Linked DNA regions of Homo sapiens: all the other regions are linked to region 2. The links come from fine-mapping of genetic effects on gene expression. A gene starts in region 2. Each other region holds a variant in brackets. All regions are shown on one strand. Distances are between the middles of the regions.

The links. PIP is the estimated chance that this variant, and not a neighbour inherited with it, causes the effect.
Region 1: its variant is fine-mapped to the expression of PMM2 in whole blood (TOPMed, PIP above 0.99).
Region 3: its variant is fine-mapped to the expression of PMM2 in whole blood (TOPMed, PIP above 0.99).
Region 4: its variant is fine-mapped to the expression of PMM2 in subcutaneous fat (GTEx, PIP 0.92).
Region 5: its variant is fine-mapped to the expression of PMM2 in whole blood (INTERVAL, PIP above 0.99).
Region 6: its variant is fine-mapped to the expression of PMM2 in whole blood (INTERVAL, PIP 0.97).

Annotation. Positions count from the first base shown.
Region 1 is chr16:8,837,696-8,842,710 of GRCh38, forward strand. The region is part of intron 7 of PMM2 (phosphomannomutase 2); the gene reads left to right. Among named protein-coding and RNA genes, the nearest start is that of CARHSP1, 29 kb to the right of the region's middle. The variant C/G (reference allele first, on the strand shown) is at 2,700.
Region 2 is chr16:8,795,709-8,800,723 of GRCh38, forward strand. PMM2 (phosphomannomutase 2) reads left to right here and starts at 2,131. Exons shown (of 8, transcript NM_000303.3): 1 at 2,131-2,240. The coding sequence starts at 2,175. It overlaps TMEM186 (transmembrane protein 186), which reads right to left and starts at 1,931. Exons shown (of 2, transcript NM_015421.4): 1 at 1,904-1,931; 2 at 1-882. The coding sequence starts at 1,906. The coding sequence ends at 244. RefSeq lists enhancers at 1,525-2,219, 1,858-1,907, 2,220-2,914 and a silencer at 3,770-3,819.
Region 3 is chr16:8,850,518-8,854,967 of GRCh38, forward strand. CARHSP1 (calcium regulated heat stable protein 1) reads right to left here. Exons shown (of 4, transcript NM_014316.4): 4 at 2,430-4,450. It overlaps LOC100130283 (a long non-coding RNA gene), which reads left to right. Exons shown (of 5, transcript NR_147908.1): 3 at 416-533. Among named protein-coding and RNA genes, the nearest start is that of CARHSP1, 16 kb to the right of the region's middle. RefSeq lists an enhancer at 1-5. The variant C/T (reference allele first, on the strand shown) is at 2,897.
Region 4 is chr16:8,845,000-8,850,014 of GRCh38, forward strand. PMM2 (phosphomannomutase 2) reads left to right here. Exons shown (of 8, transcript NM_000303.3): 8 at 2,725-4,326. The coding sequence ends at 2,826. LOC100130283 (a long non-coding RNA gene) reads left to right here and starts at 4,470. Exons shown (of 5, transcript NR_147908.1): 1 at 4,470-4,656; 2 at 4,850-4,994. RefSeq lists an enhancer at 1,491-2,082. The variant C/A (reference allele first, on the strand shown) is at 3,078.
Region 5 is chr16:8,825,449-8,830,463 of GRCh38, forward strand. The region is part of intron 7 of PMM2 (phosphomannomutase 2); the gene reads left to right. Among named protein-coding and RNA genes, the nearest start is that of PMM2, 30 kb to the left of the region's middle. RefSeq lists an enhancer at 4,030-4,631. The variant CATATATATAT/C (reference allele first, on the strand shown) is at 2,271.
Region 6 is chr16:8,857,479-8,862,493 of GRCh38, forward strand. It overlaps CARHSP1 (calcium regulated heat stable protein 1), which reads right to left. Exons shown (of 4, transcript NM_014316.4): 2 at 1,693-1,857; 3 at 872-994. The coding sequence starts at 1,850. It overlaps LOC100130283 (a long non-coding RNA gene), which reads left to right. Exons shown (of 5, transcript NR_147908.1): 5 at 2,650-2,939. Among named protein-coding and RNA genes, the nearest start is that of CARHSP1, 9.0 kb to the right of the region's middle. RefSeq lists an enhancer at 2,438-3,152. The variant C/T (reference allele first, on the strand shown) is at 2,511.

The DNA.
Region 1 (5,015 bases), 42 kb after region 2:
GACACGGAGAGAAGGGGTTGGTGTACTTGCCTCTCCGCCAGAAAAGTGGGACTTGCCGCTAAGGGTGAAGGACCAAGGCAGGCGTCCCTGCATGGTCTGACACCTTTGAAACGTGGGTAAATAATCAGGCGTCCCTGCAGTGATTAAACACCAAGGGAAGGCTGCCTTCCCAGTCTCTGACCGGCGCCGGAGTTTTGAGTCCACAGATAAAATGTGTCTCCTTTGTCTCTACCAGAAAATGAAAGGAATTGAAATTAAGGGAGAGATTGAAGTGTTTCATGCGCGTCCGTGTGAAGAGACCACCAAACAGGCTTTGTGTGAGCAACATGGCTGTTTATTTCACCTGGGTGCAGGCGGGCTGAGTCCGAAAAGAGAGTCAGCAAAGGGTGGTGGATTATCATTAGTTCTTATGGGTTTTGGGATAGGCGGTGAAGTTAAGAGCAATGTTTTGTGGGCAGGAGTGGATCTCACAAAGTACATTCTCAAGAGTGGGGAGAATTACAAAGAACCTTCTTAAGGGTGGGGGAGATTACAAAGTACATTGATCAGTTCGGGTGGGGCAGAAACAAATCACAATGGTGGAATGTCATCAGCTAAGGCTATTTTTACTTCTTTTGTGGATCTTCATTTACTTCAGGCCATCTGGATGTATACGTGCAAGTCATAGGGGATGCGATGGCTTGGCTTGGGCTCAGAGGCCTGACATTCCTGCCTTCTTATGTTAATAAGAAAAATAAAATAGTGTTGAAGTATTGGGGCGGTGAAAATTTTTGGGGGGTGGTATGGAGACAGAATGGGCGATGTTTCTCAGGGCTGCTTCAAGCGGGATTAGGGGCGGCGTGGGAACCTAGAGTGGGAGAGATTAAGCTGAAGGGAGGTCTTGTGGTAAGGGGTGATATTGTGGGGATGTTAGAAGAAACATTTGTTGTATAGAATGATTGGTGATGGTCTGGATACAGTTTTGGATGAATTGAGAAACTAAACAGAAGATCCAAGGTCCAAATAAAAGAAGGAGAAAAATGGGTATTAAAGGACTAAGAATTGGGAGGACCTAGGACATCCAATTAGAGAGTGCGTAAGGGGGTTCAGCGTAATTACTTGCTTGGTTGGCAAGTTTTTGGGCTCTATGCTTGAGTTTTTTTATGTTGTCATACATCAGGCCAGATTGATTTAGGTAAAAACAACACTCTTCATTTAAGAATATGCAGAGTCCTCTTTTTTCAACAGTGAGTAAGCAAGGCCTCGGTGGTTTTGGAGGACAACTGCAGCTAAAGAGTCAACTTGGGCCTGGAGGACTGATAAAGTTTGTGACATGTCTGTGATGCTAGCAGAGAAGTCATTAGACAGGCTACGGAAGGTCATGACAGAGGTTGAAATGCCTGCTATTCCAGTACCGAGAGCAATAGTGGAGGCAGAAAGTCCTAAACCGACCATCAAGGGAATTAGTGGAATGACTCTTCTTTGTTGTGTCGGTGTCATGAGGGGAACAGGGAGCTCTTCGTTCCTATTTGCAAATTGAATTTTGGGAGTAAGGAAGACTAGTGTGCATGTGCCTGTCCAATTAGCAGGTAGACACATGTTAGGTAAAGGATCCACAGAGGAAGAAGAGACCTTGTGCGAGGCAAAACTGGAGATGTAAAGTAAAAAGATGAGGAGTGCTGCAAGGGGTGTCTTGTACCTAGAGTCCTAGGGATCCAGCTAGGGCGGCAGCTGTCAGAGGTTGTAATGGGGACTGATGGGGTAACTGCATAGAGGGGGAGGTTCGATTTTCATGGTGTATGAGAAAACGTTGAGTATCTACAAGCAACCTTTCACTATTATTTTCGGGGCTGGGTAAAAGTAAACAAGAGGAGGGCCTGGGAGGAAGAGTCTGATGAGCAAGGGGAAAGTAGCCAAGGATGGAGTGAAATACAGGGCAAGTGTCTTCCTAAGCAATAATTACTGCTAATGTTTTTAAGTTTGTCAGTATTGATAGCGGGCTTGTCTGTAATATGGAGCTGGAAGGCTCCCATTGTTTGAGTGATGTGTGTAGTTGGACTTTGGAGATGAAGAGTAAAGGAACATCGAGAAGGTGAAAGATTACCTAGGGGAATTCCAGTGGGTCTTTGCCGAGAGATACATATAGGAGCGGCCACAGGCATAGTAGTTTGTGTTGTGAGAGGTCCGAATATGGGGGGAGAAAGGAGAAAGGAGAAAGGTTTTTTAAATAAGTGTGAAGGAGGGCGGCAGCTTGCTGATGTGAAATGTCTGGGGAAGTCTTGCTGGACCTGTCTAGAAAGTAAATGAGTTCTTCAGGAGGGTAAAGGTGAGGGCTGTTACAGGAAGTTCGGAGGTGTAGGGAGATGGGAGATGTTGCCCAGTCTGTCTGTAAGGTGGGGACAGCTGTGTAGGCACTGGAAGAAAGGGAAATGCAAAGCCAGCAGTTGTTCACTAAGGAGGGATTAGAAGCGGCTAGGAGAGAATGGGTAAGGTTGATAGTGTGGTGGAGATAGCTGGGGAGAGGTAGAGGGTGGCATAAGAATGGGAATGAGAATAAGAGTGAGTATAAAAGTAAAGAATAGAACTTCATCAGGGTGGAAATATTGGAGGGTGCCTTGCCAGCAAAGATCATCTATCCACTCTAAGAGGGAGTTAAGAGTGGCAGTTTGGGGATAGCACCAAGAGATATCAGCTGTGATGGCTTGAAGAAACAGTGTAAA[C/G]CGGCCGTGTAAACAAGAGTAGGGCATTTATAAGTAGTTGAGAATGGAGAATAGGAGTATGACCAGACAGAAGATAGTAGGGATGACTAGTTTTTTGGGGCTCGGCCTAAGTGGTGGGGGTGACTTCGTAAAGCCCTGTTGCAAAAAGTAGGGTAAGGACGAAAAACCTAATAGAATGAAGGGATGTATTAGGCTCATAAGGGTTATGACTGTTCTTCGAAATACGACTGAGTTTAAGGGAAGTAGGGGAGAGTACTTGCAACTTCCAGGAGGAAGAGGAGGGATTAGGCTGGCTGTCCGATGGACACAGCTTTATTCTGGAACGGTGAGCCTAGTGGGGAGGATCCTGCAGGCGGACAGCAGTCGGGGTACTATAGATGACTAAGTAGGGTCCGGTCCATCGAGGTTGTAGAGTTTGAGGAGTCAGATTAACAAGAACTGATCGTCCAGCTAGGGTGTCTTCATATGGCTGGGGATCTGGAGTAGGCAAGAGAAGCTTAGCAGCCTGGCGAATTTCCTGTCTAGCCTGCTGGAGGACTGGAAGACAGTCGCCTAGAGGGCTGGTGTCTGGGATGAGGTTGGGGCCAAGCAAGAAAGTGCGTCCATATAAAAGTTCAAATGGACTGTACCTACCCTGTAGCATCTCGAGAACAGGCTCTAATTCTGAGAAGAGCAAGAAGTAAAAGTACTGTCCAATCCTTTTTAAGTTGGAGGCTGAGCTTGGTGATGTGTACCTTTAAAAGACCATTAGTCCGTTCTACCTTTCCTGAAGATTGAGGACTGTAAGGGATATGAAGGTTCCACTGAATACTAAGAGCCTGAGAAACTGCTTGGGTGATTTGACTAGTAAAGGCTGGTCCGTTATCAGACTGTATAGAGGTGGGAAGGCTAAACTGAGGAATTATGTCTGACAGAAGGGAAGAAATGACTGCGGTGGCCTTCTCAGACCCTGTAGGAAAGGCCTCTACTTATCTAGTGAAAGTGTCTACTTAGACTAAGAGGTATTTTAGTTATCTGACTCGGGGCATGTTGAGTGAAGCTAATTTGCCAGTCCTGGGTGGGGGCAAATCTTCAAGCTTGATGTGTAGGGAAGGGAAGGGGCCTGAATAATCCCTGAGGAGTAGTAGAATAGCAGATGGAACACTGAGAAGTTATTTCCTTGAGGATAGATTTCCACGATGGAAAGGAAATGAGAGGTTCTAAGAGGCGGGCTAGTGGCTTGTACTATAGCATAGCCTGCCTTTGCTGCTATGTGGCGATTAGGCCTGGTGGAACCGCCATCAATAAATCAAGCGTGATCAGGGTGAGGAACAGGAAAGAAGGAAATATGGGGAAATGGGGTGAATGTCAGGTGGATCAGAGAAACACAGTCATGGGGGTCAGGTGTGGTATCAGGAATAATGTGGGAGGCCAGATTGAGGTCCGGGCCAGGAACAATGGTAATTGTGGGACTTAACAAAGAGTGAGTACAGCTGAAGGAGCCGGGGAGCAGAAAGTATATGCATCAGGTATGAGGAAGAAAATGGATTTTGGAAGTTATGAGAAATGTAGAGAGTGAGTTGAGCATAGTTTGTGATTTTTACGGCCTCTAAAAGTATTAAAGCAGCGGCAGCCGCTGCACGCAGACATGAGGGCTAGGCTAAAACAGTAAGGTCAAGTTGTTTGGACAGAAAGGCTACAGGGTGTGGTCCTGGCTGTTGTGTAAGAATTCTGACCGCACTAACCATGCCTAGGAAGGAAGGGAGTTGTTGTTTTGGAAGGGATTGAGGTTTGGGAGATTAATCAGACAAGATCAACAGGCAGAGCACGTGTGTTTTTATGAGAATTATGCCGAGATAGGTAACAGATGAGGATGAAATTTGAGCTTTGGAGGGGGATACCTGATATCCTTTGGAGAGTAAATGCTGAAGGAGCAGAAGTGTGTCTTGTTGAGAAGATTCAAAGGAGGGGCTACAAAGAAGAAGGTCATCAATATATTAAATAAGGTGAGAAGCGGAGGGGTGGAAAGAAAGTAGATCATGAGAAAGAGCTTGGCTGAAGTAATGAGGGCTGTCCCTGAAACCTTGTGGCAGCACAGCCCAGGTAAGCTGCTGGGACTGATGGGTGTCAGGGTCAGTCCAGGTGAAAGCAAAGAGAGGCTGGGACAAGGGGTGCAGGGGAACGCTGAAAGAAGCATCTTTAAGATCAAGTGTGGAATAGTGAGTTGTGGAGGAAGGTATTGAGGATGAAAGAGTGTATGGGTTGGGCACCACAGGGTGGATAGGCAAAACAATTTGGTTGATAAGGCGCAGATCCTGAACTAATCTGTAAGACTTG
Region 2 (5,015 bases):
CTTCTGGCCATTATCTGACTGAATGTCACAAACAAGTGCTGTAAGAACTTGCTTAGAGCCTTTTTCCTAAACCTGTACACCAGCTCTTGCCTTGTGAATTTATTCACCACAAAACACATGTTCCCAGGGGCCCAGGCAAAGTCTCCAAGTACCCAGTCCCCTTTCTTCAGCCTTGCCCACACCCTCAGCCTTCCTGTTAATCCAGGCGACCCAGGGTTACCCAGAGGTCCAGGTCCCAGTTGTTCACTTGAGCATCTGATGTACCCCAAACACCTGTGTGAAACGCTCTCTGTCCAGGATGCGTCCATAGCGCAGGGTGACGTAGAAGGTCTGTTTCCCACTGTACCGCTGGATACGCACAAACATCTCCTGAGGCCGGTCCTTGGTTTCTGTCAGGGGAATCACATCTGCCATGGGACAGTATGTGTCCTGCCGCCAGCCCCAGAAGTTCAGATGGGCCACCCGCAGCATGGTGCCAGACTCATTCAGATACAGGATACCAACCAGTCTCCGTAAGAAATAGCTCATCCAGCACAGCATGGTCAGGGCAAAGCCCGATATCCCACTCATGAGGCACACGGTGTTGAGAGTGAGGAGGCCCTGGGAGTACAAGTAATAGCCTGGTGGCAAAGCTACCACTGTCAGGGCAGTCTGTGCCAACTTCAGTCGTGACAGGAACCCGAAGGTTCTGATGGCATCAAAACGGTAAAACATCCAGAATTTCTCAGTCTCTGCGTTTGGTAGTTTCTCCTTCGAGATGGGTGAACTGCTGCCCACCCACCTCTTAGGATCCTCCTGCCCACTGCAGCACCACAGCCCATGGAGAGGCCTTTCCCACACAGCTTTTCCCCGAAACCTACGCACAGCTCGGAGAAGGGCAGCCTGAAAGGGAGACAGTAGACCATTTCTCTCATGGAACTCAACCACATTAATCACACGGTGAACATCTGCAAAGCACCATACTCTAAGGCTTCTGCCAATCCTGCAAGGTAACCGTTATTGCCAGACGAGGGAAGGGTAAAGCCAGATGCTATCTCATGTGGGCATCACAACAGCTATCTAAGATAGTTATCACTATTTCCACTTTACCACTAGGGAAACTAAGCCCAGAGAGGGTAAGATATTTACCAAAGATCACACAGTCAGTGAGTGCAGCAGAGTCCTCCTTCCACCAGGCAATTCCAAATAAATACAGGAAAGGAGGTGCGGCCGTCATTAATTCAAAACATATCCAGGGAGGACAAACTCTGGGCTGGACAATGTATCCACAAGGGGGTGTGAACATTTCCCCAAGCAGGAAACTAAATAATCAGTGTCTTAGTGGGGAACTCGAGCAACAAATCTGTGAGATATTTATTCCAATAAACTTTCTAATTCTCTGTTTGATTCATATGCTATCTTGGGTGCTGGAGGGAACTGCTGCTTTCTCTTAGCCTAGTCTGGGGAAGGGGAAACAGCGGAGAAGGAGAAGGAGCGAGGCAGGGAGGCCCCAACACGTAGCACAAGGGTATTACTAGGTGGGTAGTGAAGCAGTAAAAGCTCTTATTCCAATTCTGGCTCCAACAGTAATTTGTGAGCAAATTACTCCACACCCCTGAGATTCGGTTTCTTCGCCTTTCAAAATGGGGACTCAGAACACAGTGAACCAGAGGATGGTTTCAGAGTCCTCAACTTAGTACCTAATGCACTGTGAGAGCTCGGCGAGTTTTAGCTACTACTACTGTGCGCATGTGACCCAAGGAGGGCAAGAGAAAGCCCGGGAAAAGCGAACTGTAACACACGCCAGAGCTTCCTCCCACGGATCCTCGGAGTCCGAAACCCGAGCGTCGGGCCTGCCCGCCCCAGCCCTGACCCCGACCCCAAAGAGCATCACCCCCTCAAGGCTCGCCACCCGCCTCCTTACCATGGCCCCACCACCTGCTGCCGGAAGTAAATCCCACCGGCCCCCGGAACCCCTAAGAGCGCATGCTCGAATGTACAAGGCGGGCGTGATCTGCGTTGCACCCTGGGAGTTGCGGTCCAGGAATCGTGGCTGCCGCTACTCCCAGGCGTTATGGGAACGGAGTCCCCTCCTCTTCCCGACGTGCCCTGCGACTCAGCGGCCGAACCCGGAAGTTCCGGGCCGAGTTCCTCGTGCCAACGTGTCTTGTAAGGTGCGGCTAGAAACTGGGGACATGGCAGCGCCTGGCCCAGCGCTCTGCCTCTTCGACGTGGATGGGACCCTCACCGCCCCGCGGCAGGTAAGTGGCGGCCGGCGGGCTGCTGGCAGCCGACGCGGAGCCCGTGCTGTTCCCAGTTGGGGCTATCGACCACCCAGGGTAGGCGCCAAGGGGTGGCTAAGGACCGCCTACGTCCTCACGGCGCTGAACCCTATTCTGGGTGCACTGGAGGAATGAGAGGGAGGCCCTAACCAGCTCTTGAAGAGCTCTGGTGCTTGGAAAGATGAGACGGGGCTGAAGAACTCTTAAGAGCAGGAAACTTGTGCTAGGTTGGAAAATGTAATCTGGACTCACCGCTAGTGCTCGGGACTGATAGACCAGGATTTCAACCCAAGATCAGGCCCCCTTATCAGCTATGTGTCGGCCCCAATCCTGTAACCAATGGGCTGTGCCGTGAGTCATGATATTAAAAACAGGTTTCCAGGTCAAACCGACCTAGTGGAGTCTCATCTTCACCTCTTGACATCTGTGTGACCTTCAGCGAGTCATTAACCTCTCTGAGCCTCAACATCTACAGCTTTAAATGGGGATGTTACCTGTTCCATATGGTGTCTGTGAGGATCAAATGAGATTGTGTAAGTTCTTGAAAGTATGTTGGACACAACACACTAGGCCTCAGTAAATAGTAGCCACCTCCACCACACCCATCTCCAGCCCCTGCAATGGACTAGGGAGATGGAGGAGCCCTAGGTTATTACAGGCTGCCCGCTGAGAGCCTCTTTGGGCCCTTGGAAACTTGCTTTCCACTTTCAGATTTTGCTGCTACAGGCACAGATAAGTTTCAGTTACGATCAGCCTTGAGGTGAGGCTCTCCTGGCCCCTTTTCAGAAATTGGCCACTGAACACTGGCCATTTCAACTTGAGACTGGACCCCAATGGTCTCACTATCCTCAGCTTCTACCCTCACCCCTCATAGTTTTCGCTTGGTGGTAACAATGGTGTGCTCCAGAAGTCCAGGTCAAATGCGTGTGACCTTAGACGTATCATTTTGCCCTTCTCAGCCACAGGTTTGATTTACCTAGTGATGACGCTCAACTCCCAAGTTCTTCAAAGGCTTTTTCTGATTCTGAAATTCAGTGATCACACACTTGGGTTTGTTAAAAGCCCATAGTGGTCTAAAACTCCGGTCCCCAATTCATTTTTTGTAAAGGGCCATATAGCAAATACTTCTCTGTCTTTGCTGACTATGTGGTCTATAGTAACCACTCAACTTTAGTGCAAAACCAGCCATAAACCCTATATAAATAAGAGTGGCTGTGTACCAATAAAATTTTATTTATTTATTACAAAAACAAACAGCTGCCCAATGTGGTCTGTGGGCCATAGTGGTCTAGGGTTTACATTGCCACCCTTTTTCATATCACTGAACCCTCTCAACCTTCCTCCATCTTTCTTCCCAGGTAGGATAGTTGTTATTACCGTTTTAAACATAAGGAAACACACTCAGTGAAGAACTAACCTCCTCAGTTTCACACAGCCAACCTGGTACAAGTCTCTGGGCCTCAGGATATTGGTTCCTGTCAAGTTTGCCATTTCCTATCTGTGCTAAGGTGGAAGCTGTTCTAGTCACTGGGTATGCCATTCAGGAAAGTGCTTCTGATTTTCTGATTTTCACAGTTCTGACTCTTTTTTTTTTTTTAAGACAGAGTCTCACTCTGTCACCAGACTGGAGTGTAGTGGCCCAATCTCAGTTCACTGCAACCTCCACCTCCCAGGTTCAAGCAATTCTCCTGCCTCAGGCAACCAAGTAGCTGGTGCTACAGGCAGGCACCACCACGCCTGGCTAATTTTTGTATTTTTAGTAGAGATGGGGTTTCACTGTGTTGGCCAGGATGGTCTCTATCTCTGGACCTCGTGATCCACCCGCCTCGGCCTCCCAAAGTGCTGGGATTACAGGCGTGAGCCACCGTGTTCTGACTTTTAAAGGCCACTCCTCCAATTCTAGATTCTGTCTAATAGGTCCAGATTCCACTGTGAGAGTAGAAAAGATTGCACTCTATTACAAACCCTTCTGTACAATTTTAATCACATTCATGTATTACTCTAAAAAAGTTTTTTAAAGAAAAATCATTGAACTCCAAGTGTTTATATACTGAGGTTGAATTAAATGGTTTTTTGTATTTTCTAAATTTCTAGTAAAAAGATATTCAGCCGGGCACGGTAGTTCATGCCTATAATCCCAGCACTTGGGGAGGCTGAGGCGGGTGGATCACTTGAGGTCAGGAGTTCGAGACCAGCCTTGCCAACATGGTGAAACCCAGTCTCTACTAAAAATACAAAAAGATTAGCCGAGCATGATGGCGGGCGCCTGTAATCCTGGCTACCTGGGAGGCTGAGACAGGAGAATCGCTTGAACCCAGGAAGTGGAGGTTGCAATGAGCCGAGACCACACCATTGCACTCCAGCCTGGGTGACAGAGCACGACTTCGTGTCAAAAAAAAAAAAAAAAAGACATTCAGTGTAAATGTACAACTGAGATTGCTCAAAGTGCTGAGTTATAAGACTTGTAAAAATACATTGTGATGTGTCTTAATGTAGGGCTATTTTTTCATCTTAGTTTATAACTTTTTTAAAATTATCACACAGTTTGGAATTTACCATAAGATTATACCACTAAGACCACTCTTTCTAGATAGGAGCTTTGCTTTTAGAAGAGACTAAAAAATCTAGTTATCTTACTCTTTTACATTTTTGTTTTGTTTTGGGTGATTGCAATAAAATCAATTCTAAGCTTCTCCTTTTTTTTTTTTTTTTGTTTTGTTTTGTTTTGTTTTGAGACGAAGTCTCGCTCTGTGA
Region 3 (4,450 bases), 55 kb after region 2:
GTGTGGGGCATGCTCATGATCTGTCCGGGAAGGTCTCTCCAGCTACTGGAAGGGGAGTGCCCACAGGGGCCAGGAGAAGGCAGTTGGGCAGATGTTGCCGTAGTCCGGACACATCCAGGCATACGTGGTTTTGAATCACTTCCTCTCCAAGGGCTGCTGCTTCCTCTCCACCCCTCCCAAGTGTTCTGGCTCTGGGCCCCAGCTGGCCACCTCAGCCCAGGCAGGCTCCTCCAACCTGAACGACAGGCAACCTCCACGCTGCCTGCCACGGCACCCCAAAGTCAAGACGTAGAACTCATTCCACCTCCTTCACCCGAGGCTGCTTTCCCAAACGTCTTCCCAGTCCCACCTTCAGTTTTGTTTTTTGTTGTTGTTGTTGCTATTGTTTTTGAGACAAGTCACTGTTGTTGCCCAGCCTGGAGTGCAATGGCACGATCTCAGCTCGCTGCAACCTCCGCCTCCCCGGTTCAAGCAATTCTACTGCCTCAGCCTCCCGAGTAGCTGAGATTACAGGCCCCTGCCACCATGCCCAGGTAATTTTTGTCTTTTTAGTAGAGACGGGGTTTCACCATGTTGGCCAGGCTGGCCTTGAACTCCTGACCTCAGGTGATCCACCTGCCTTGGCCTCTCAAAGTACTGGGATTACAGGCATGGGCATGAGTCACCATGCCCGGCCTTTTTTTTTGTTTTTGAGACAGAGTCTCACTCTGTTATCCAGGCTGGGGTGCAGTGGCACAATCTTGGCTCGCTGCAACCTCTGCCTCCAGGTTCAAGTGATTTTCCTGCCTCAGCCTCCCAAGTAACTGGGATTACTGGTATGCACCACCACGTGCAGCTAATTTTTGTATTTTTAGTAGAAACGGGGTTTCACTATGTTGCCTAGGCTGGTCTTGAACTCCTGACCTCAAGTGATCTGCCCACCTCGGTTACCAAAGTGCTGAAATTACAGGCGTGAGCTACCACGCCCGCTCCCCACCTTCAGCTTTTGCCAAACCCTTCCTTGGCTACCCATGTAGTACTCCATATAGTAAGTAAGTCAGCAAATCTCATTGTTTTGAGCTAAGTGCCTACGTTAGGCTCTCCCTAAACAGGTTTGATGGGCTGGTTTTTTCCCAATATGCTTTGGAAATCATTGTATAATACTGACAAGAAAAGTGTCCATCTCTGCACCACCCAAAATCACTGCCTCCCTTGGGAGACACCGGCCAGAGCAAAGCCTTCCCAACAGAGCACAGCGACCCCATAGAGTGGCCCCTGCCTGTCACTGCTCTCCTGGAAACCAAGAACAGGAGTTCTTACACCTGCCCACCTTCTGCCCTCACTCCCACTGCCCCAACAGCAAACCCTTCCTCCCCTGCTATGGACCTTGAAAAGCTCTCCGTCCTAGGACTCTGCCAGCCCCGGGCCCTCAAGCCTCATCTGCTTCCAGCCCCTGACTTCATGCCTGAAGAGCAGCAAGCTTTTTTTTTTTTTTTTTTTTTTTTTTTTGAGACTGGGTGTCACTGTCACCCAGGCTGGAGTGCAGTGGTGCATTCACAGCTCATTGCAGCCTTCACTTCCTGGGCTCCAGCAATCCTCCCACTTCAGCCTCTGGAGTAACTGGGACCACAGGCTCATGCCACCATGCCCAGCTAATTGTATTTTTGGTAGAGACCATGTTTCGCCATGATGCCCAGCTGGTCTCAAACCCCTGAGCTCAAGCCATCCACCTACCTCGGCCTCTCAAAATGCTGGGATTACAGGCGTGAGCCACTGTGCCCAGCCCTAGCAAACGTTCATCAAATGTCTATAGCAGTGGCCGGGTGCTGTGGCTCACACCTCTGGTCCCAGCACTGTGGGAGGCTGAGGCAGGAGGATGGTCTGAGTACAGGACTTCGAGACCAACTTGGGCAATGTAGCAAGTTGCTCTCTACAAAAAATTTAAAAATTAGCCAGGCATGGTGGCATATGCCTATAGTCCCAGCTACTCAGGTGGCTGAAGGAGGATCACTTGAGCCCACAAGGTTAAGGCTGCAGGGCAACAAAGCGAGACCTTGTCTCAAAAACACAAACAAAAAACACTTCTATAGCAGGAATGAGCCAGGGACTGTGGACAGTGTGCCCCGAGGCCCGTCCTCTCTTCCCACAGCTGATGGGGATGAGGTGTAACTCACACATCCTAAAAGCTTCAACAGGGCACTGGAGCGCCGCTGACCAAGTTACTGGCATTTTCTATTGCCAGGAAGCCGCATTCTCCTCTCTGCTAAGCTTTCTCATGCTAGAGAATGATGACTAAAAAACAGATGATCCCATCTTCTTATTCACCATCCCCTAAAAAAAACAGACTGCCACGTGGAATGTGTCAGCCTCACCTGGGGGAGACACCCTTATCTGACGACTTAAAAGGAAAAACTTGGTGAGCCAGCCTCCACACAAACACACGCATAGCCTTGCACAAAACAAAAATTTATTGGGAGAAAGATGGCTGATGGGAGGCAAGATCTGGATTCAGGAATCCTCAATTTTAGCTCTCGCTCTGTCACCAAAACCCTCCGTCCCTCCCAGAGCCTCGAGGAGTTTCCCCTTGTGTAAACCGGTATCGCGTCCCTTCCAGCTCTGACATCCTGCGGTTCTAGAATACCCATTGATTGAAAGAGCTGTGGCCAAACAGGAAGGACAGAGTAAGAGCCGCTGACAAAGGATTCTGCCAAGACAGAATCCCAGGGTCACAGGAGAGAGGCTTGGGGCAGTGAAAGCCCTCTCGGGTCTTGGCTGTGGAAGTGTGGACTGTACCAGCAGATGGGCCCTTGGGAAGCCAACAGGGAACAATTCAAGGCTGGAGAGAAAAGGCCACCTTTGACCCAGCAGAAGGCAGAGGCGGGAGAGGAGGGTGAGGATGTACAAGGAGCATCGCAGG[C/T]GAGGAAACAATGGCCAGGACCTAACTGTGGTGGGAACTGCCTTTGTCTCCACACACTCGCAATCAACATGCGTATTTGCTATTCTCAAACAACTCCCTTCCACCCCCTTAGGCTGAAAGGACAAACTCATCAGAGTTGAGGAGTACCTACCTGATGAAGCTGTTCATGCTTCCAGCATCAAACTGGACGTTTACTGTCTGCCCAAAAGCCAGTTTCCAAAAGGTTTGCTTGCCTCTGTTCAGTGGATTCTTGACTACATATAGGTCATATATTTCAAAAAATAATGCCTAGCTATTTCTACTTTGAAATCATGACTAAAGCCAAACCACAACCACAGCAAAGATAACCTAAGGATTTGTTTACCAGAAATACCTACAAAAAAGTTTGCAGGCCGGGCGCGATGGCTCACACTTGTAATCCCAGCACTTTGAGAGGCCGAGATGGGCAGATCATCTGAGGTCAGGGGTTCAAGACCATCCTGCCCAACATGATGAAACCTGGTCTCTACTAAAAATACAAAAATTAACCGGGTGTGGTGGCGCATGCCTGTAATCCCAGCTACTCAGGAGACTGAGGCGGAATTGCCAGAACCCTGGAGGGCAGAGGTTGCAGTAAGCTGAGATCGGGCCACTGCACTCCAGCCTGGGTGACAGAATGAGACTCAGTCTCCCACCCTGCCAAAAAGTTTGCAATGTCGGCAGCAAAGTGCAAACAGAGCCGGCTCTGGGTGAAAGCTTTAGTTATGAAAAATAAGAAAAAAAAAATCCCTAAGCATTTCTTAACACTAGTTTTAAAGAAAACCCCCTCTCCAAAGGTATGTTTCTCCTTCAACTTTCTTGACTTTGCCAGGCTGTCAGGATGCAAGCTACCTACTCTTTTCTGGATGGATCGGGACAAAGTTTTTAAACAAAGACTGTGTCCTCTCCACAAGCCCTTCCCACCACCACCACCCCAGCCCCCCGCCGCCATAATTACAGGGGCTGTGAAATGGCTGTTGAGTGATGGTCACACAACCAGAAGGCAGATGAAAAGGTCAGGCTCTAAGAGGGGTTCAGCCTCCCAGTACCAGCCTGCTGTGCCCAGGGGTGGGAGTGCTGGGAGAACTGTCTTCCCCAGACAGGCAGCTATGCCGCCTCCCACTGCAAAGGCACCAAAAGGCAACATCCGTCCAATCCAAAGACCGCCACCCCCGCCTTTCCCCACCCACTTCAAGCCAGCTCCCCTAGAACCAACCAAGCCAAGAATTAGAAAACTGCTTTGCCCAGGCCCCAGGAGAGGCGCAAGGGGCACTTAGGTGGAAATTTGCCTTGGAGAAGTCACGCAAGGTCCCTGTCAGGCTGCCAGGGGGCCAGATCTGGGAATCTGGGGCCTCCAGCTCCAGGAGGAAGAGGGATTCTGTGGGTTGAGCCCATGTGTCTGAGCAGCTGGAGAAATACCACCCTTGATCCACTCCCTGGGATGGGGTTGGAACCTCCACTCAGCCACCAGTGGGCACCTCTCCTTTTTAAATGCTTTTAATGCTCTTCAGATGGTGAGAGGTTGTTGCAATGGTC
Region 4 (5,015 bases), 49 kb after region 2:
TCTCCCGATCTGAGTCACGGCACCAAATTTCATGCGCGTCCATGTGAAGAGACCACCAAACAGGCTTTGTGTGAGCAACATGGCTGTTTATTTCACCTGGGTGCAGGCGGGCTGAGTCCGAAAAGAGAGTCGGCAAAGGGTGGTGGATTATCATTAGTTCTTATGGGTTTTGGGATAGGCGGTGAAGTTAAGAGCAATGTTTTGCGGGCAGGGGTGGATCTCACAAAGTACATCCTCAAGAGTGGGGAGAATTTCAAAGAACCTTCTTAAGGGTGGGGGAGATTACAAAGTACATTGATCAGTTCGGGTGGGGCAGAAACAAATCACAATGGTGGAATGTCATCAGTTAAGGCTATTTTTACTTCTTTTGTGGATCTTTAGTTACTTCAGGCCATCTGGATGTACACGTGTAAGTCATAGGGGATGCGATGGCTTGGCTTGGGCTCAGAGGCCTGACAGTAGGTGTTCTAGAAAGGTGTGTTGTGTTAATGTGTGAATACTGACTCCCCTCCTCAGTCACTGAGGCGGGGAGGGTGTTTGGCTCTTTTGAGGCATGTGAGAGTTGGTTGTGCCTTTGGTTTTTTGTTTGTTTTTTTTTCTTTTGAGTCTCGCTCTGTTGCCCAGGCTGAAGTACAGTGGTCTGTTCTTGGCTCACTGCAATCTCCGCCTCCCAGGTTCAAGTGATTCTCCTGCCAAGCAGCTGGGATTACAGGTGCGCACCACCACACCCAGCTAGGTTGTGCCTTTGTTAGGTTCTCTGTGACTTTTACCCACTGTGCCATTCCTGAAAGAAATCTTTTTTTTTTTTTTTTTAATTAGAAGAATTACTGGAACTAGCTTGGCACTGTTGGACACAGTCTTTGTCTCAGCTACTCGAGAGGCTGAGGCAGGAGGTTCGCTCGAGCCCAGCCTGGGCAACATAGCAAGACCCTATGTCCGAAGGAAAAAAAAGGCAAAATCAGAATTACCAGAACTGATTTCACATGTGTAGGTAGCAGATGGTGGCCATGCAATTCAGGTCTGTCTGAAGGCCCCCAGGCCTGGTACAAAACTGTGTAAGGCCAGTACAAGGCCCTGACAGGTTCCCAAGTGGCTGGACTGGAAGAGATGCCAAGTTCATGGCCTCCTAACCTGACTCCACCCAGCACTCCCTGGGCCCAGCGACGTTCCCTCCTGAAGCCTGAAATTCACCTCCACCTGAGGAGGCCATCTGCCTGGGGATAGGTTCTTGCAAAAATGAAAACACTCATTTCCAGAGGCAATTAATTCTTTTAAAGGATGTCAGATTTTTGGTACAAAATCATGGTTTCCACGTTGGCTTCATGCTCGGTGCTTTATGAGAAAAATCCCTTTTTTCTACGGTTGTGTTCATTGTATTGTAAAGCAATCGTAGATTATTTTAAGGTTTTGAGTTAGAGTGATTATCCAATTTTATGAGGGAAATAAAGGAATTCCATGAGAAAAACGGGGGCTTTCCTGCAGGGCTCGGGGTTGCGGGAGCGGCAGATAACCTGATTCATTAACGTGAGCCCAGTGGGATTGGTGGGGGTGATGGGGACACAGATGGGAGCACTCAACTCAGGCACAGGACCCCAGCAGAACATGCCCAGGTCCTCCTAGACATGGGCCCTTGCAGACTTTCTGAGGCCTCGGTTTCGTCATCTTACCAAGGTGTGACCCCAACCATCATCTCCTGAACTTCTGGCCACAGAGCTGTGAGCAAGCTTCCATCATGACCCCATTTTGGAGATGGGGAGTTGGCGCAGCCACACTGCTGCTCAGTGGTAGAACCAGCATCTGACCCAGGCCACCTGTTCCAGAGACCCTGCTTTTAGCCAGCAGCTCAGACCCCAGTCATGTGGGGCCATTTATTTATTTATTTAAGATAGAGTCTCCCTTTGTCGCCCAGGCTGGAGTGCAGTGGTGCGATCTCGGCTTACTGCAACTTCCACCTCCCGAGTTCAAGCAATTCTCCTGCCTCAGCCTCCCGAGCAGCTGGGATTTCAGACGTGCGCCACCATGCCCAGCTAATTTTTGTATTTTAAGTAGAAATGGAGTTTTGCTGTGTTAGCCAGGTTGGTCTCAAATTCCTGACCTCAAGTGATCCACCCTTCTCAGCCTCCCAAAGTGCTGGGATTACAGGCATGAGCCACCATGCCCGGCCCACGTGGGGCTGTTTAAATTAAAATCAAATTAACTGAGTTCCTCCATTGCATTGGCCACGTTTCAAGTGTGCAGAGTGACACATGGCCAGTGGCTGCCATCACCGCTGATGTCGCCACGTCCCTCATCACAGGAATATCCCTGGCAGCCCTGCTCCCGGCCCTCTGCCCTCCTGACGCTCCCTTGTGACTTGTTAGAAAAGCGTAGGTACAGCTAAAAAAAAAAAAAAAACTGATGGCTGTGAGAATACTGTCACTCGCTGATGCCTTCTGTGTAGAAAAATAAGCCTTAGACAGATCTTCGCAAGAACATCGTGATGGCTCTCATAGGCATAATTACGTGTTCCAAGCCAAATTGCAGTTCAAGAGAAGGTTATAAATCTCTTCTTAATAACAATTGTACTCACGTTCCTCTCCTGGAAACTAAGAGGAAGGTAGCTGAAGAAACTCTCCCTGCCCAGTTAAATCTTGTTTTTTGGGTACTTTTGGACTCCAGGGTCACATCAGCAATGGCCCGGGACAGACGAGGGGGAGCCTTCATCTGTACTTCGTGTCTTTCCAGGGTGGCAATGACCATGAGATCTTCACAGACCCCAGAACCATGGGCTACTCCGTGACAGCGCCTGAGGACACGCGCAGGATCTGTGAACTGCTGTTCTCCTAACGTGGGAGCGGGAGGGGCGGGGTCCCGGCTGACAAGCCAGCATAGGGCATTCGGTGGCCAGAGCCGAGGGTCCTCCCACACGTGCTCACCCACCCGCAGCCTAGGCAGGCTCTGCATGCTATGCCAGGCATGTGCAGTCTGGACTTCCACCTCCAGTGCCAGAAACTTCCAGAAGGAAGGAGAAAACTCTTGTCAAGAATGGCCCAGAGGAATGCCTCGCACAAAAGGTCTTCCCCACCCACCCCCAGCCC[C/A]CTAGTCTAATACCCACCCTGATACGTGCAATCATGTAGTTTTGGCGGAAATTTCCCCATCATTCTAGGATGATACAGAAAGAAAAACTGTGCCTGGACCCTCCCTCTTGGTGGGTCTGTGGAAACATAAGCGGTTTTTTTAATGGGCCCCTGCATCAATACCAAACATGGGGGTTTGGTAATGAGAAACCAGGACAGGCCATCTGCAGTGACCCAGCCCAGGACGAAGTTTACAAACACCTCCTGGAACGAAGCTCCCGCCTGCATGTCACCTTGATGGGGGCTGTGAGTGGGGCAGTGTGATACCCAGTGACTAGACGCACTCTGCGTTTTCCCGTGTTTGGGGCTGAGGCCTGCTGGACAGATGGCTGGCCAAGTGGGAGCAGACCCTAGGGAGTTTGCACCTCGGCTGGGCCGGATTCGGACCGGCTCTGTGTTCACTACACTCAGAATAGCCTGGCTGCTTCTCTGTCTCCGAGACCGGAGGTAGTGGGAACCAACAGCTGGGCTGGAGAGTTGGTGCTGGCAAAACAGTCCTTGCCCTGGGGCCGGTTCTTACCCAGGTCCAGAGAAACCAACGCGGGATGTCAGACTTCACCAAAAGGACTTTCTGGTTGCCCCTGGCTGGCTTCCTGGAGGCGTTCGCCTCTAGTTTCTCAGGGATGGAGCGAGAGCCCAGCCAGAGAACAGTAAGAGGAGCTGCTCTCCTATCTGCACTCACCCAGGCCTTCACCCAGACTTTACCACGGAGGCGGCTGAGTGCAGCTACAGCTAGGTCCGCGTCCCTCACTCTTTTCATCTTCTGCACGTTCTTCGTGAAACTGGAAGGATCCCGGGTCTCAGCTAGAACACGGTGGAAGAGAACTTTCCTAGGAAACGGTTCATGTGTCACTTTTCAGGATGTGGAAACACTGAGCCATACACCCTCCATTGCTTGGTGCTGGGGTTGTGTGGCCTCCACTGGGCACTTGCCGACCTGAGTCTGGGGCCAGGGGAGCCCAGGCTGCCCTGCACTCCTGCCTCCCAGCCCACAGCCAGGTGCTTTCATCACAGCTAAACCTGGTTCCCTCCAAACCTCCCAGCCACTCGGGCTTGTAACTGTCTGAGCCCCGGATCCGGTGGGGTGAAAGCAGCCAGCTCATCCCAGTGACTCACAGGACACAGCCATCCAGCGGCATCTTTCCTTGTCGAATGATACTGTAATGACCTTCCAAAGTGAAGAGTAGCACATTAAAGTGATTTTATTGTTTCCTGTTTCTCATTCCGATTTCTTTTTCCTCCTATGTTCCCAGATTCTGGAATGGAACCCCAGCCCTTCCAGGTCTGAGAGCCACTCTTTCTTTACTCTGGATTTCTGTCACATCGGGGGCCCCTCCCTCTGCGGAGTTGCATGTTGCTGTTCCTGATGCACAGACTCCTCCCCCGCTGCTTTTCTGCCCACTGGGTCAGGATCTGCCATTCTTTACAAGTTTCCTTAACGTATTGCGTCAAAGCGAGACAACCGAGTCTTACTCAAACTTGTTTTAACCGGAGATGGAGGGTTGCTGCTGTGTCACCGCCTGCACAGGGCTGCCCTCAGGTGAGTACCCCGAGTCTGCCAGGCTGGGTGCTGATGCGCGGAGGTTTGGGCCGTCCCTGCCCCAGTTCCCACAGTGGCTGCTTGAGACCCTCCCCAGGCCCCTCGAGCCCCTCCTGCACTGTCTGCTGCCTCCCTTCTGCAGTCAGAATTGACACTCCCCTTCCACCTTCTTTGTCATCACATTGCATCCCAGGCCAGCTTCCTGGGGCTTACTCCAAGGGCATCGGCTTGCCCCGCACTGTGGTGGGATGTAAAGTGATAACAGCTAAACGACGCATGCACAACATGTCCTGGTGCCTTCTGCGTGACCCCAGAGCAGCAGGTTCTGCACATGGCAGGTAAGAGCACAGCTGCCAAGA
Region 5 (5,015 bases), 30 kb after region 2:
AGCTGGGATTACAGGCACCCACCACCACTCCTGGCTAATTTTTGTATTTTTTAGTAGAGACTGGGTTTCGCCATGTTGGCCAGGCTGGTCTTGAACTCCTGACCCCACGTGATCGCCCACCTCAGCCTCCCAAAGCGCTGGGATTACAGTTGTGAGCCACCACTCCTAGCCAAAGCTAGTTTTTAATAAAATTTTACAAACAAATGTATCCGATTTTAGTTTGACTGTAGGGTAACATTTTCGTAAACCTTTTATATAACCCTTTATAATTGTTTGTTAACAAATCAGTGTTCAAAAATAAAACACTATTTTTTTTTTTTTTTTTGAGATGGAGTCTTGCTCCATTGCCCAGGCTGGAGTGCAGTGGCACATTCTCAGCTCACTGCAACCTCTGCCTCTCAGGTTCAAGCAATTCTTCTGCCTCAACCTCCCGAGTAGCTGGGACTACAGGCGTGTGCCACCACGCCCGGCTAATTTTTGTATTTTTAGTAGAGACAGGATTTCACCATATGGGCCAGGCTGGTTTCGAACTTCTGACCTCGTGATCTGCCTGCGTCGGCCTTCCAAAGTGCTAGGATTACAGGCATGTGCCACCGCATCTGGCATAAAACCCTATTATTTTGATATATGGGCCCAGATTCTGGCCCTGCATCAGTATGCTTTTAATATTTAATTTATGGAAAAAATTAAATAATACCCTTTCGATTTTAGCCAGCTTGCTCACACACAGAGTTGTTCACAAAGTTAATTTTTCACAAACCTACAATTTGCTTAAACTTTCAGTTTTATTTTGTCTTTCAACCAAAAATAATCTTTAAACTCTCTAAATTAGAGAAGATTTTCTCTTTTAAAAAAACCCATATTCCCATGTCTTTAAGCAGTTTTAATTACATACCAAGTGCAGAGCCTAGAATACAGGACAGAACTGCAGATAAAGTCTGACTCTCTCTGGCCTAGCTAGGAGTCATGGCTACCTCCATATGTCCCCAGGCCTTATCTGGAATCTAATGGCTCTAAAGTAGGTAAATTGAACAATTACAAAAGTCACAGAAGCCACTTATGACCTTAAAGCATCCAGCAGAAACAGTATCTGATCTGCCTAATTCAGACCAAATGAAGACAGTTTTATTTCATCAATAATCTTTAAAACTATCTTTATTTACCAAAGATTACTAACGTCATGTGAACTAAAATGCATTAGAGTTGCTATTTCTTTGAAAAAATATTTAAGTGCTTATTTTTTAAGCCAATTAATTACAGCTCTTAAACATCACACACACAACATTATAAATATATAGACCGAAGAAGATGCATTAGTTAAGATTTTTCATTTGCTGATTTTTTAGGGGTTTTTTTTCCCCATTTTACAAATCTTGTCACGACTCACAGAGACCATCTATGCCATGCTTGGACTGTCTGACTTGTCCTATGTGTCCCTCTTTCGTGAATAATCAGTCGTTCTATTTTAGGACAAGAATTTACCATACAAGATCTTTTCTCATATAAATTTCTTTTTTTATAATCATCCTTACCAAAAATACATCTTTATAGCCTCAACTTTTTTCACATATCTCTCTCCCCTACTAAAGTAATTCCTGATGCCCTCAAAAGTGAAAAAGGCCAAGTAATGTGATTCAAAACAGAACAGAGCCTTAGATTTTGAGAGGGGTCTGTCTGCTTACACTTCTTGGGGTTTTATGAGGAAAACAGAGTTTCTCCCAAAACAGGGTCTGTGGAGCCTTCTCTCTTTTTCCCAAGGAGTCCCCAGCTGTCAGAAAGTACCTTAGGTCCTCTCATGTGGGCATTCAGAGTGGCAGGAAGACAGACTGGGGAAATAATTCAGTTGACTGAGAAGAAAGACAAACAAAAACTCATTCCTCGAAGAAAAAAAAAAAATCCAGGAAGAGAAAAAGCACAAAGGCCTTTTTTTTATTTTTTTATTTTTATTTTTATTTTTTTTTGAAATGGAGTCTTGCTCTGTCACCCAGGCTAGATAGAGTGCAATGGCATGATCTAAGCTCACTGCAGCCTCTGCCTCCCGGGTTCAAGTGATTCTCGTGCCTCAGCCTCCCGAGTAGCTGGGACCACAGGCACACGCCACCAGGCCTGGCTAATTTTTGTATTTTTAGTAGAGACAGGGTTTCACTATGTTGGCCAGGCTGGTCTTGAACTCCTGACCTCAAGTGATCCCCCTGCCTCAGCCTCTCAAAGTGCTGGGATTACAGGCATGAGCCACTGCACCCAGCCCACAAAGGCCTTTTAAATGTGTG[CATATATATAT/C]ATATATATATATATATATATATATATATATATGCACACATTTATATATATATATTTATATATATTTATACATATTTATATATTTATATAATATATATTATATATATTGTATAATATATAATATATATGTTATATATTATATATATGTTATATAATATATGATATATATGATATATATTATATATATTATGTTTTATATATAATATATATTTATAAATATATATATTTATAAATTTATATATATATATAAAACTTGGATATCCATTTTTAATTAAGCAGATTTTAACTGTAGAACTCTTTTTTTTTTTTTTTTTTTTTACAAAATCTTTTTAAATTTCTTATTACCAGACTCTAGCCAGGATAGACAGCCAGTATTTCTGGCTTTTGAACTTTACCACAGGTAACCTCCTAGCAAAATTAATAAGTCTTATCTAAGATTATGACTTAACTACAGAAGTATAAGATGTCTCAAAGGGATGGTAAGCAGTTTTTTGTTTTTTTCTTTTACAAGATTTAGAATCTCCCCAAACGTAGTTTAGAGAAAAGAAAATTTAAGGCAGATTTCAAGGCAAGCTGTCCATGGTGGGGAAAGAATCAATAAATGGCACACAAAAAAAACTTACATAAATAACAAACCAGAGAGCACCCATTCCGTAAGCTGGGAACCAGACCCAGGCTACCACTGTGAAATAGCAAAGCTTCAGCTACTGAGCTAAAGCTGAAGGCTGTTACACTGGTCTTCCTGGGAATCCAGGACTTTACTCAAGATAATTCTTAAGGCTAGACATGACACTGTCACATGTCCTCTCAGACCAGCTACCGACATGAACCCAAAAATTCATGCCCTCTGGATGCCGGAGACCAAAAGAGGGTACCCTGACATGGTCCCAAAGTCAAGTTTTTCAGGACGTAAAACAAGAGAAGAGGGAAACCTTATCTGGTTTTTGTTGGAGCAAAGTTTGGAACTGACCAGTCTGCCAGGCTGGATTGAACAGCGGGCTTAGAGGGGTCCTATGTCCACATCCTATTCTGTGGTCCTGCTCTCCATGACAGAGGATGCAGCTGTGAGTGGGTTTGGTTTGCGCTGTATCTCCAGCTACTAAAGCAATGCTTGGCAGGTAGTAGGTGTTCTAGAAAGGTGTGTCGTATTAATGTGTGAATACTGACTCCCCCTCCTAAGTCACTGAGTGAGGAGAGAGGATGTGTGATTCATCTGAGGCATGTGAGAGCTGGTTGTGCCTTTGTCTTTGTTTTTCTTTTTTCTTTTGAGATGGAGTCTCACTCTATTGCCCAGGCTGGAGTGCAGTGGTGCGATCTTAGCTCACTGCAGCCTCCACCCACCGGGTTCCAGTGATTTTCCTGCCTCAGCCTCCAGAGTAGCTGGGGATTTGTATTCACAGCACAGAGTGCACCAGATTCCCTACAGCCTAAGTCTAGGCTCATAAGATTTTTTCTATTAATCAGACCCTTGCAGAGGAGACAAACAGTGATGTTTTCCATTCATACACGGCGAGAGGGGCCAGAAGCCTGGCTGGTAAGAAATGTTTACCCTTTTTGCCTGCATGTCAGGTTTCTGGGTTCCCATTCTCTGTAGCTTCCAGAAGAACGGAGCAGCTCTTGATGACCCTGATCGCTGCACGCTAGCTGTGGGCGCCAAGTCGCATTGCAAAGGAAAACCATCCGTTTCTGTTTTATGGAACCACAGGCAAAAGCCTCTCAATTTTTCAAGATGCTGCCCAATGGGCTGCATGGGGAACTGAATTAACATTTTCCATCCTGGCCAGAGCAGAGTACACATGACAAAACTAGTCACTATGCTCAGTGCCCAGCATCAACTTGGCAAGGCTCACACTTGCTCCCGTTGGTCTCTGTCATCTTTGATCCACTCCACTCAAGGTGGGAAGGGACGCCTTCCACCGGGAATTCAAAGGATGGTCTCTGAGCCAGATGGAAGAGCGGATGGTCACCCTCGAGGCAGCCCTGTCAAACTTCCGAGCTTCTGCTGACAAGTCCTTCAGGGTTCAGTGAATGTGACCAACCAGACAAACTAGGAGAGCCTGATGGACTTCCTTCAGCAATTCCCTTAGACATCTCCTCCACATATACAAACACATACAGCAAAACACCTTCCAGAAAGAGTTTCCAGACTAAATCACAAACCAAGAGTATTCCTCCAAACAAGTCCCCTATTCTCTGTACAATTAGGGCAGATACCCCATGCTGGGGCTACAAACAGATACCACCTAATAGAGCTAGAGATGCCCCATGATGGGGCTACAGGCAGACACCCAATGATGGGGCTACAGACAGATACCCTGTGATGGGGCTACAGTTACAGGACGTCTCCCCAGGACTGTTTATTGCAGTTAAATCCATACACCATGGGTTGGCAGCACCCCATTAGTAGAGATGGTGCCAGTGTCAGCCCCCAGTCGAAGAGAACTAGGTGGCCGCCTGGGCTGGCCTCTGGATCCATCACCAGTGAGGGGGGTTGGGGAGGCTACTGAATCGCTGGAAGATAGCCACAAGGGAGATCACAGATGAGCCCCCAAATTTGTAACCCCCTCCACAGGTTCTCCTTGCCCACAGCCTAGACAGCCAATTTATCAAGACAGGAGAATTGCAATAGACTAATTCACACAGAGCCAGCTGTGCAGGAGACTGGAGTTTTATTATTACTCAAATCAGTCTCCAAGAATTTGGGGATTTGAGTTTTTAAGGATAACTTGGTGGGT
Region 6 (5,015 bases), 62 kb after region 2:
TTTGTGATGACAGGATTTCACCAGGCTGGTCTTGAAGTCCTGACCTCAGGTGATCCGCCTGCCTCCGCCTCCCAAAGTGCTGGGACTACAGGTGTGAGCCACCATGCCCGATCCTTTTTTTTTTTTTTGAAATGGACTTTCACCCTTGTCACTCAGGCTGGAGTGCAATGGCGAGATGTCGGCTCACTGCAACCTCTACCTCCTGGATTCAAGTGATTCTCCTGCCTCAGCCTTCCGAGGAGCCGGGATTACATGCACCTGTCACCACGCCCTGCTCATTATTTTTTTTTTTTTTTTTTTGAGATGGAGTCTTGCTCTTGTTGCCCAGGCTGGAGTGCAGTGGCGCAATCTCGGCTCATTGCAAACTCCGCCTCCCAGGTTCACACCATTCTCCTGCCTCAGCCTCCCGAGTAGCTGGGACTACAGGTGCCCGCCACCATGCCCGGCTAATTTTTTTTGTGTTTTTTTAGTAGAGACGGGATTTCACCATTAGCCAGAATGGTCTGGATCTCCTGACCTCGTGATCCACCCACCTCGGCCTCCCAAAGTGCTGGGATTACAGGCGTGAGCCACCACGCCCAGCACACACAAAACCTTACACACCCATTCACAAAGACACACCCAGGGACAATCACAAGTACCGTGTCGCCCCCAGCCTCACATCCCCCAACACAGCTCCGTAGAGTCTCACAACCCCAACCCAACACACACACAGGAGCACAGCTGGAGCACCAGCCACAGGCAGAGTCACACAGGCCCAGCCATTCGTCCTCACACCCAGCGCCCATCAGAGTCACACACCATCCCCACCTCCACAGGGCCAAGGAAGCGCCCACCCCAGCCAGGCCACCCAGACCTGCCGCTGACTCACTCAGAGATGTGCAGGAAGATGTCGGGGCCGCCATCAGCTGGAGTAATGAAGCCATGGCCCTTGGACCGGCAGAAGCATTTGCAGACTCCTTTGTAGACGGGGCCCTGTGAAGCCCGCACCGTCCTGACAGAGAGGGGGAAATGTCAGGGGCCCCATCAGCGCTCCTGGGCACACAAAGCTCATTCCAGCCCCTGCCCACAGCTGTGCCCCATCAAGCCCTGGCCAGGACCGCCATGTACAGTCACACAGGCTGAGGACTGCACAACCCTCAACCCTGGGAGCCGCTCACAAAGACGCTGGGGGAAAGGACTCTTTGGATGACCCTGGCCAATTTTCTCGGGCCTGTTTTCCCTCCTGGAAAGAGGGAGTTGAACTAAAACATCACTGAACATCCCTCCAGAAACTAATGATTTACTATTAATAACACAAGCATCCTCCACTCGCAAGGCCTGAGACCTGCATCTGCCAGGCATTATGTGGGTCCTTTGCAGCCCTGGTGCTGTGCCCATTTTGCAGCTGCAGAATTCACAGTCTCACAGGGAACCAGACTCTCATGTGTGGTTAAAGCCCAGCGATTCTGACCCCAGCAACTGCCCACCCATTGCCACTCCCAGCTGGTAACAGGTTCTTCTGGGCTGGGCAGTACCCTGAATTTACAAGGCGCCTTCCTAGTTTCTCACCCTCAGCCCACGGCCCAGCCCCAGGTCTGCCTATTTGGCAGTCCGGGACATAGGCCCAAAAATGGCCAGAGACACAGTGAATCTCTGGCCTCAGGCAAGAGATCCATCTGAGAACGCGTCCCCAGCCTGCTCCAGACTCACGCCGAGAAGGTCCTCGTCCGGCGAGTGGGCAGTGGGCTTGGGACCACGTTGCCCCGCAGAGGGGATGGTGAGCGCTCACGGCTCCGAGGGGTGTCCAGCAGCCCGACTGAAGCTTGATGGGTGGGGGGCTGTGGTGGTGGGGGAGGCTCAGATGACATGGCTGACCTGGAAAGAGAAGAGGCTGTCAGGGGCTCGTGCCTTGCAAGGTAGGGACCCTGTGCTTACCCCCATGTCCACGTCTGACAGTCCAGTATCTGAGGCTCATTCCTCTCGGGCACCTCAGCACCATTGTCACCTTGTCTGGGAGCACGCCTGGCAGGGTCAGATGCCTACTCTGGGCTCCTGAAGCAACCGTGGGGCCCCCTCGATCATAGCTCTTCATGAAAATGCCACATCCTCCCCCATGACCAGGATGGCATCGGTCCCCTCTGTGTCCCCAGCACAAGGCATGGATCCCGGCACATTTGGGACACATAGTATTTGTGGGAGGGAAGGAGGAAGGTGAGCAGAAAACCCAAAGCCAGGGGCCGGGCGCAGTGGCTCACACCTGCAATCCCAGCACTCTGGGAGGCCGAGGCAGGCGGATCACTTAATGTCAGGAGTTCGAGACTAGCCTGGCCAACATGGGGAAACCCAGTCTCTAATACGAATACAAAAATTAGCTGGGCATGGTGGCAGGCACCTGTAATCCCATCTACTTGAAGGCTGAGGCATGAGAATTGCTTGAACCTGGGAGGCGGAGGTTCCAGTGAGCTGAGATCGCACCACTGCACTCCAGCCTGGGCTACAGAGCAAGACTCTGTCTCAAAAAAGAAAAC[C/T]CAAAGCCAGGGAGATTTTAATGCCAACCACCTAGATCCAAACTCAGCCACTCCACGGACCCTCCCTGACGCTGCTGGGAGCCAGACACCACAGGGAAGCAGGGGCAAAAACTGACCCTCACGCAGTGTCCGCCTCCAGGGAACTGTGGAACACGTCGCAGAGAGCTCAAGCGCCACGTTTGGATCCCTGAGCAGCTGTCACAAGCCTGCACCCAGGACTGGGGGGCCTGCTGCGAGAGCCCAAAGGGAAAGGGAGAATTTCCAAGGCTGCATCCAGCTCCATCAGGCCCAGTGAATTTCCACACAGCCCGGGTCACCACGCTGTTATGAAATCAAATTCCTTCTGTGACCCCTAGTATGTACCGGTAAATCCAGCTGGAGGGCGGGAATTCCCTAGCTGCTGCTGTGCTTTTGACAATTTTTCAAGAGCAGGACACTCGCTGTACACAATAATCACTGAACATTGAATATGAAGGTGTCGGCTCTAACGTGGCCTCAGCTCGAGGTTCAGGGGAAAGAGAAACAGTCCAGCAGTCAGAGGCCCTTGGGTAAGTCCTTTCCCATCTCTGGGCTCAGTTTCCGAATCTGCAAAGTGGGGCAGCTGGGTGGGCATCACTTGGCACCTGCGCAGGGCTGGTGATGGGGGTACGAGATGAAGTAGGGAGAAGCCTAACTAACTCAGGACGCCACTCAACACCACACAGCCGGGAGGGACAGCAGCAGCCCTGGATCGGTTTGACTCAGGTCCCATGGGGTTTTCAAATTTAGATTTGAAGCATGGGCCAGGTGCGGTGGCTCACACCTGTAATCCCAGCACTTTGAGAGGCAGAGGCAGGTGGATCACCTGAGGTCAGGAGTTGGAGACCAGCCTGGCCAACATGGTGAAAACCAGTCTCTACTAAAAATACAAAATTAGCTGGGCGTGGTGGTGGGTGCCTGTAATCCCAGCTACTCGGGAGGCCAAAGCTGGAGAATTGCTTGAACCAGGGAGCTGTGGGTTGCAATGAGCCGAGATCACACCACAGCACTCCAGCCTGGGTGACAGAGTGAGACTCCGTCTCAAAAAAAAATAAATAACTTTTATTTTTTTGAGACAGTGTCTCACTGTCACCCAGGCTGGAGGGCAGTGGCATAATCACAGTTCACTGTAGCCTTGACCTCCATGCCTAATTTTTTTTTTTTTTTTTTTTTTTTTTTTTTTTTTTTTTTTTATAGAGACAGGGTATCACTATGTTGCCCAGGCTGATCTCAAACTCCTGGGCTCAACGGATTCTCCCACCTCTTCCTCTCAAAGTGCTAGGATTACAGGCATGAACCACCATGCCCGGCCTGAACTATCTTAAACATCCCAGGGGGTTTCCTCAAAATCCAGGTTTCCAGCTGCTCATGGAAAGAAATGAAGCTCTCACAACCTTCAACCTCAGTTTGCCCCCCCAGTCCCCTCATTTATAGGAGTCTTCAACCTACATCACCCAAAAATCCCACCGCACCCCCCGAACCGCCTTCAAGCATAGCCACCCAAGAACCAGGCCCGACTGCTCAGAGGAGAAGGGATGCCCCATCCCTGAAATGTCAGAACCCCTCCCCAGACATTGCTGCACTCTCCCGTTGGGCCTCAGTTCTGTCGGGCTGGGAAGCTGGTGGCTGGCTTGCCTTCTGGAGGAGGTGGCATCCTACCTCCTGTCCCTTCTCTCAGCTACAGCCGCGGCCAAGGAGGAACTCCTGAGTCCGGGGAGCCCCCACCTCAAAAAGGCCCCAGCTGCTGGCCTGGGGGCCAGGGCCCCCGCATGACCTACCAGCACAGGTCATAGAGTCCTAGAATGTTCAACGCCCAGAGTTCCAGGAAAGAGGCTGGCCCTGGGAGGGGAGGGCCCTGTCCAGGCCTCCCAGGACAGCAGATGGGAGCAGTGGCCTCGCAACTCCACAGTTAGAGACACTGCCCTGCCTTGTTCTATCCAAAGTCTCCCTCCCTCCTTTCTCCTGGAGTCAAGCATAGCTGACTTTTTTTTTTTTTTTTTTTTTTTTTTTTAATTTGAGATGGAGTCCTGCTGTCGCCCAGGCTGGAGTGCAATGGCACAATCTCGGCTCACTGCAACCTCCACCTTCTGGGTTCAAGTGATTCTCCTGCCTCAGCCTCCCAAGTAGCAGGGGTTACAGGTGCCCGCCATCACGCCCGGCTAATGAAGCATAGCTGACTTCTAATCCTACCCCTTGCCTGCTGTGTGGTCTTGTACAAGTTACTTAATCTCTCTGGGCCTCAGTTTCCACATCTGGAAAATGGGAATTATAATAGTCCCGATTTCACACCATCAGGCTGAACTGAAAACAAAATAATACACACTAAGCACTGGGCACACTGTCCGCCCAGGTCCAGTGAGCAGTAATTGTCAGCTACGACTGTTGTTATAATTGTCATCATAAAGGCACTCAACAGACACGTGCCCAATACCGAGCCCTGTTCAAGGCCCCAGAGACAAAGGGCTGAACTTGAAGCCAGAGAATAAA